Linked DNA regions of Homo sapiens. The protein of the gene in region 2 interacts with the protein of the main gene of each other region in a pairwise test. Each region holds a gene or a part of one and is shown on either strand. Other genes may lie near its edges.

Region 1 (3,651 bases), on a different chromosome or scaffold from region 2:
AGGCAGGGGAGGCAGTTGGCCCAAGCCCGAGTAGCCCCGGGCCTGCCTCAGGCGCTCCCAGAGTGCCCAGCGCTGCTGCTACAGGGACAGTCTCTGGGCCTCAGGCATCTTAACTGCTATGGCCCAAAAGGGCTGCCTGCACCTGGCAGAGTCCAGAATGGAGACTAAAACATCCCACACTTCCCACATGACAACAGGCGCGGCCAGCCAGCTTGGCACCCATCCTCAGCCCCAGGGCCTGGCCAGCACTAGGAGGAGCTCACCGGGGTGATCTCAAGCTTCTATCCTATACCTGCCCCATGAGAATATTACAGGTGGGGAAACTGAGGCACAGAAGGCTTTGGTGACGTGCTCAAAGTTAGCAGCAAGTGCACGTCTGGGGAAGCCTGTGCCTGTCACCACCATCCTAAGGTAGTCACAACCTTAGCAAACCAAAGACAGGGGCCCTGTCCTTCCCTGCCCTCCTTGGTGCAGCTCCGCAGGGAGATCAGACACCAGCCACCCGCAGCCCACACTCCAGCCGCCCAGGCCCCCCTGCCTCCCCTGCCTGTGCCCGGAGCTCACCGTGATCTGGACAGCCAGCAGGCCCTCCCCGGCGTCCTTTGCATCGATGGTGAACTCCACGGGCAGGCTGGCAGGCACGCCAGTGGTGTTGAGCCCGGGGCCACTGGCCTTCACCTTGCTGGCATCATGAGTAGGCAGCACCTTGACCTTGAAGGGGCTGTGAGGGATTGGTGTTGTGAGCAGTCAGACAGGTTCTCAGCATCCAGCCTGGGCCACTCCCCACAGGCAGCAGGCCCTGCCTCTTACCTCCGGGGTACCTCTTCATCTCCATACAGTACTGAGATGCTGTAGGGCCCTTCTCGGCTGGGCACATAATTGACGGTCTGGGTGCCATCAGCGTTGTCTACCACGTCCACTGGCTCCACCAGGCCTGGCCCCAGCCCCAGGGACAGAGCATCAGCTAGTCTCCTGGGCCTCCATTCCTACCCCACCACACTGGACGGCCAGGACCCAGCCCCAGGCCTAGACCTCGCTTTATCCTCATCCACCCGACCCTGGGAATGGCCTTGACCCCCTCTGGCACGAAAGACACCCATCTGGGTGCCAGCTGGGACCCTTGCCTGCCTGCCTTCCTGCCACATCTGCTCAGTGACCAGTCCCATCTGCTCTACCTCCTCCAAGTCCCCCACCTGGCTGCACTGTCACCTGAGGCTCTTCCAAAAACACCTACACACTTGCACCACCTCTGCACTCTGGTCCTCACTTTGGGCCTCCAGTTTCCTTTCCCGGCCCTCAAACAGGACACTGCCCTCCTGACCCCTGGCTCCAGGCATGCAAACACTCACCTTTGGGCCCTTGCACTTTGACCTGCAATGGGGCCACACCAGCCTTGCTTGTGTCCACCTGGAAGGACTGAGGGAGGTTGGCACGAACCATGCCTGGGCTCAGGCCGGGCCCAGAGCACTTGACCTTGGACGCATCTGTCACATCATGCACAGGGACCTTGAAAGGACTGCCTGAGGGTTGGGGCAAAGGGATGGCGGCTGTATGAGACAGGGTGGGGACGAGCAGACAGTCCCAGCCCTGCCCTGGCCGCCACCTCCTCACCTGGCACTTGATGGCCACCATAGGTGACGTTGAGGCTGTAGGTGCCAGCCTCATAAGGGATGTACTCGACCGAGCAGCTGCCGTCCTTGTTATCCATGCAGGACATCTTGGCCTCGGAGGGGCCCTCTACAGCCAGGCCCAGGCCGCCCGTGCCAGCTCCCCTGGTCCAAACAGACAGCCGGTCATTCCTGGGGTTCCCAGGCCCACCAGCCACACGGGCTCCTGGGGGCTCCCTTACCTGGTCTCCACAGTGAACTTGTTGGGCTTGTTGGTGGTGCCACTTTGGATGCCTGGCCCGTGGACACGCACCCGGGAGGGGTCGCAGCCCTCGGTCACGGGCACCTGGAAGGGGCTGCTGGGCACGGGACTGCCGTCATAGGTCACGTCCACGGAGTGCAGTCCTGGAGGAGTGCAGGCCAGGTCAGGAGGAGCCCGGGCCACCCCACCCACCCCGTCTGCCAGCCTGTGGGAGTCCCCAGCACGCACCCTCCTCGTAAGGCGTGTACTCCACTTTGTACATGCCATCGCCACGGTCCTGAACGTAGGTCTCCGTCAGGTTGCCTGAGGGGTTGGCCACACGGGCCTTGACGTGCGGCCCTCCGGTCTGTGTCAGAGCCCGGGCGTCCACACTGAACTCAGTGGTGGCCTCACGGAAGACACCTGCAAAGGCACAGAGAGGAGGCTTGGGGCTCGGGGGTTCTGGTCCCTGTCCCCCGTCACATACCCCACGGCAGGGCAACTCACCCTGGCCCTCAATACCAGGCCCATAGCACTGGACACCGGAAGTGTCCACCGCAGGTTCCACCTGCAGCTTGCTGGGGAAGTTGGGCACGGGCTGGCCGCCGTACTTGATGGTGACGGTGTAGGCCCCGGGGCAGAGGGGAATGTAGGTAATGGTGTGCGTGCCATCACCGTGGTCCTGGATGTACACCTCGGCCGGAAGCCCCGCCTCCGAGCAGATCTCAATGGTCAGCTCCGCGCTGCCCGCGCTCGAGCAGTCCACTTGGAATTGGCCCACCTCCCCAGCGGTGGCCCGCTCCAGCCCGGGGCCTGAGCACTTGACTTTGGATGCGTCAAAGCAGGGAACCACGTGGGCCTTGAATGGGGAGCCAGGGATGTGGGTGTCAGCGAAGAGGATGTTGATGTTGTAGTCCCCGGGCTCGGTGGGCACGTAGGACACGGAACATGTGCCATCCCCATTGTCCAAGCACTCGAGCTGCGCCTCACAGGGGCCCTCCACCGTCAGGCCCAGGCCACCTGTGCCGGCGCCCTTGGTGTCGATGGTGAAGCGGGCGGGGGAGCCCGCACTGCCTCCCTGCAGCCCCGGCCCAAACGCCTTCACCTGAGGGAAGAAGGGGTCAGGAGCCAAGGCCACACTATGCCCCGATCCCAGACCTCCTGCTTGACTTTCCACCTGCCTCCCCTTGCCCTGGCTTCCTGCCCTCACCAAACAGGGACACGGGCGGGCCCAGGCTGCCTGCCAGATGGGCCATCCATCAGTCATAAGGACAAAAAGGAGGGCAGGGCGCGGTCACTCACGCCTGTAATCTCAGCCCTTTGGGAGGCCAAGGTGGGTGGATCACCTGAGGTCAGGAGTTTGAGAACAGCCTGGCCAACATGGTGAAATCTCGTCTCTACTAAAATTACCAAAATTAGCTGGGCATGGTGGCGGGCACCTGTAATCCCAGCTACTTGGGAGGCTGAGGCAGGAGTATTGCTTGAAGCCAGGAGGCGGAGGGTGCCGTGAGCCAATATCGCGCCACTGCACTCCAGCCTGGGCGACAGAGTGAGACTCTTTCTCAAAAAAAAAAAAAAAAAAAAAAAAAAAAAAAAAGAAAGAAAAAAAAAAAAAAGAAATTCTTCAACCCTGATGACTTTTTGTGGGTTTCTATTTCCCTCCTCCCCTTTACTCTCACTTAAACAGGGTCAAGGTTGACAGTCTGTCTCAGGAAAAAAAAAAAAAAAAAAGGATTTAGGGCAGGTCTGGAGAAGATGGGGTACCTTTGGGGCCCTCAGAGAGCACAGTGGGTTCTACCCTTA
Region 2 (3,651 bases):
CATCTGCACAGTGAGCAGCTCTAGTTCTCCAAGTTTTCCTCTAGGGCAACTTGTGAGTTCATTTCAGGGAAATAAATATTCTTGAATTCGGCAGAATGGATTAAGTGTGGCGGAGGCACCATTCTAATAGCCCTGAACGACCTCAGCAGCTCCTGAAGCAACGTCTGTTTTTGAATTTTACTTAGGGCTAAGTATCAAGAAAGGCTCTGCCACTGTGTTTTCTCCTATTAACAATTAGCATGATGTAATTTACATGTTTTTCCTTTCAAGTTCACCTCCAGGGAGCTAACAGCCATATCTGCAGATGGATTCTGACACCAGATATAAGTGTATGATCTGAACATGTTCTGTGTTTGATCCTAATCTGTACCTCCGACTCTACACCGTGTTTTTCCTGGTCCTAATTATTTTCACTTTTCATTTCTATTTCATTCTTTTCTTAGAATTGCTTCCTATCACTGACTTCTAAGCCTCTGCACTGGGCCAGGGGAACAGGGAACAGCTTACCTGGGAGTGGGTGACCACTCTCTATCCGAATTAGGGTATGAGGCTGACTGAGGGTAAATCACAGCCAGGGAGAGGTTTTCCTCAGGAATATCATCTTGGAATGGAGGTATATCATTAGGAAGAGTTCTGGAGGAAAAAAAAAAAGATTAAAGTCAAAGAATTCTTAATGATAGATTCATAATCAAGTTCCAATTTTTTCTTGATTAGCTCTAAGTGCTTTGTAATTAACATGATCTCTTTAAACACCCAGATCTGTTCCAGGCAGTGGAGGGGGAAAAAGTGAGATACCGGCATCCATAAACGTGTCTATGTGCTAATGCTTTGGCCGAATTCTAATTGTAAAATGATTTTGTTTCAGCATTTGGACTCAGACACACATGCAGTGATCACACTGCTGGATCCTCCCATCGTGCCACCTCCTGCTACCCTACACGGTCATGTTCCAAAAGCCTGGGAGGTAGAGTGGCCCCAAACCGGCCCCAGGGCGGTATAAAACCCCTGCCAGGTACAGGCAGAACTGCTGAATAACTCAATGACCATACGCTGATCACATTTTGTCTAGCAGAAGAAATAAATGGCATCAACCAAACATGCCTTACGATTACAGAATAACTGCAAATGACCTCGTTTCAGGTATAAGCACACTCACTACTAAATACAATTCACAATTTCAATCATGCAGAGGCCATCTGTCTATATGTTGATGTTACCTGGAACACCTACCACTAAATTTTGTACTTAACAGCCATGCAGAGAAGGCAATTATAAGAAGCCCAATGACGCTGGTTCTAAGCCTGTCACAGGTTAGATAGAGGCTGTAGTTGGGAAAAGCAATATTCGTTGCCAGTTGACATTTATTTTTCACCACGAAAAAAGATATATTTTATTCCAAATAATGACACAGGAAGATACTCCTGATTCCCCTTATCCCTTCTTTATGTTAACAAAATTATCAAAAATTATACCGAATTATGTAAAAATCTGAAACATCAAATATCCTTCAAAATGAATTTTATCTTTTAAAACTGGCATTTTTCACCAAAATAGTAATACATACAAACAGAATTTCACCACACTGTTAAAAGCAAAGAAAAAGGAAACAAAATTTCCATTAAACTTTGGACCTAAGTCAAAATTAAAAAGGAAAAAGTTGGCTTATAGAGAAAACAGCATTTTCTTCATTCACTTTTAAGCCTGAAATCAGCCCTTGCCTATAAATCAGCCCAGTTGTGCATCGTTGGTGCTCAAATAAGAATAAATAGGTTCCAAGAAAATGGGTTTGGTCATGAACTATTAATTTGCTCAGTTCCTGTTTCTTGACTCCATTCCAGGCTGCTAAAGCGATCAGCCAAGGAGGTTTGGCATCACCAACTGTCTCTTGGCTACAGCACAGCAAATCTTTATACCACTCTAGGATTGGGTCCACATGATTCCAAAATTCAGCCTAAAATAGGGGTCCCCAACCCCTGGGGTCCATGCCCCTGTTAGAAACTGGGCCACATGGCAGGAGGTGAGCGGCGGGCAAGCTGGCAAAGCTTCATCTGTGTTTGCAGTCGCTCCCCATCCCTCACATTACCACCTAAGCTCCTCCTCCTGCCAGATGAGTGGCAGCATCAGATTCTCACAGGAGCACGAACCCTGTTGTGAACTGCACATGTGAGGGATCTGGGCTGCGCACTCCTTGTGAGAATCTAATGCCTGATGATCTGTCACCCATCACCCCCAAGATGGGACCGTCTAGTTGCAGGAAAACAAGCTCAGGGCTCCCACTGATTCTACATGATGGCGAGTTGTATAAGTATTTCATTATATATTACAATGTAATAGTAATGGAAATAAAGAGCACAATAAATGTAATATGCTTGAGTCCTCCTAAAACCATCCACCCCTGGTCCATGGAAACACTGTCTTCCACAAAACTGGTCCCTAGTGCCAAAAAGGTTGGGGACCACTGGTCTAAAACACATAAAAGAATAAGGAATTATGGGGGAAAAGTTCATAAAAATAATCTTGAACAGTTAACTGTCTGATTCTGGCACAGCCCCTCCACCCTGGACAGTTATTACCTGCTGCTCTCCAGCAGCTCCATGGCCTCATCCGAGCTCATCTCGATGGGGAACATGTCCTCATCCTCAGATGTGTTCATGTTGTCATCTCTCTTCAGGCTGTCCAGCTGTGACTTTCTCCTCCTTTTTCTTCTCTTCTTTACTACAGAGCTGCTTGACGGCGTCTCGCTGGGAGCGATCACTTGGGCTGGCGTGCTGGGGTCCAGGCCTCTCATCCTGTCCACAGAGCCCCTTTTCAGCTGGCATTCCATTCTCGAAGCTCCTTCTGACAGGATGGGGGAGGTGGCCAGGTGCATAGGGATAACTTCCTAAGAAAAGAACACATTTTCTAAAAAGAGCCTCGTTAATTCAGGTATAAGAAGCAGGGCCTTGCCAGAGGCCTCCAGGATTCACTTCAGAGGCCAAGCACCTCCTGGGGAGGGCCACAGCAGATGGCCCAGCTAGAGGCCACAGCCATGGTGACCTGGAGATGTGGCTGCCCAATCTGGTAGAAGATCAGAAAGCCAACAATGTATTGAATGCCACTTTGTACTCAATCCTGCATTTATGTAATTTTAACAATGGGAGGTAATTCTCAGTGATCTCAAGCCCCCAAAATTCAACTTTGGCTGTAATACCCAGAGCACAGAGGAAAAAAATGGGCTTTGACTCACCATATTATGCTGGGAATTGGATGCACTCTTGCACTTCTGTGTAGATGTGGGTGTGCATGGGTGGGTGTGAGAGAAAGACAGAGAATGTGTATTGTGTATTTTTTATATGCAATGAATTAAGATAATAACCATCTAAAAACCAAAAACACGTAAAACAACCGATAGCCCCGCCCAAGAACCTGCCTGCACCAGGGCCCAAGGAGGGCCCTGAACATCGAGGAAGTAGATACTGATCCTCTCCTTAAAGACAAAAGGAAAAAACACAACCTGTCCATTTAGTAGTTGTTTGTAATGATTCAGCAGTTTTTATAAAACTCTAGTAATCATTTTATTAATGAATGCCTCATTTTGTATGAGAAACTCGTTGACAATAAGAATATACATAAAACAGAGGGGATAAATAAACGTGTGCTGCTGATCATTCA

The links. The genes of interacting proteins can lie anywhere in the genome.
Region 1: the proteins of LPIN1 (region 2) and FLNA interact in binary tests that used the Homo sapiens proteins (3 or more experiments, as listed by UniProt).

The regions. Positions count from the first base shown.
Region 1 is NC_000023.11:154,357,635-154,361,285, forward strand, and holds part of FLNA (filamin-A), read right to left. Parts: intron 2,954-3,651; coding exon 2,356-2,953; intron 2,272-2,355; coding exon 2,098-2,271; intron 2,013-2,097; coding exon 1,850-2,012; intron 1,773-1,849; coding exon 1,612-1,772; intron 1,521-1,611; coding exon 1,350-1,520; intron 935-1,349; coding exon 811-934; intron 722-810; coding exon 565-721; intron 1-564. UniProt on the Homo sapiens protein: Promotes orthogonal branching of actin filaments and links actin filaments to membrane glycoproteins. Anchors various transmembrane proteins to the actin cytoskeleton and serves as a scaffold for a wide range of cytoplasmic signaling proteins.
Region 2 is NC_000002.12:11,770,602-11,774,252, reverse strand, and holds part of LPIN1 (phosphatidate phosphatase LPIN1), read right to left. Parts: intron 2,882-3,651; coding exon 2,574-2,881; intron 634-2,573; coding exon 508-633; intron 1-507. UniProt on the Homo sapiens protein: Acts as a magnesium-dependent phosphatidate phosphatase enzyme which catalyzes the conversion of phosphatidic acid to diacylglycerol during triglyceride, phosphatidylcholine and phosphatidylethanolamine biosynthesis and therefore controls the metabolism of fatty acids at different levels.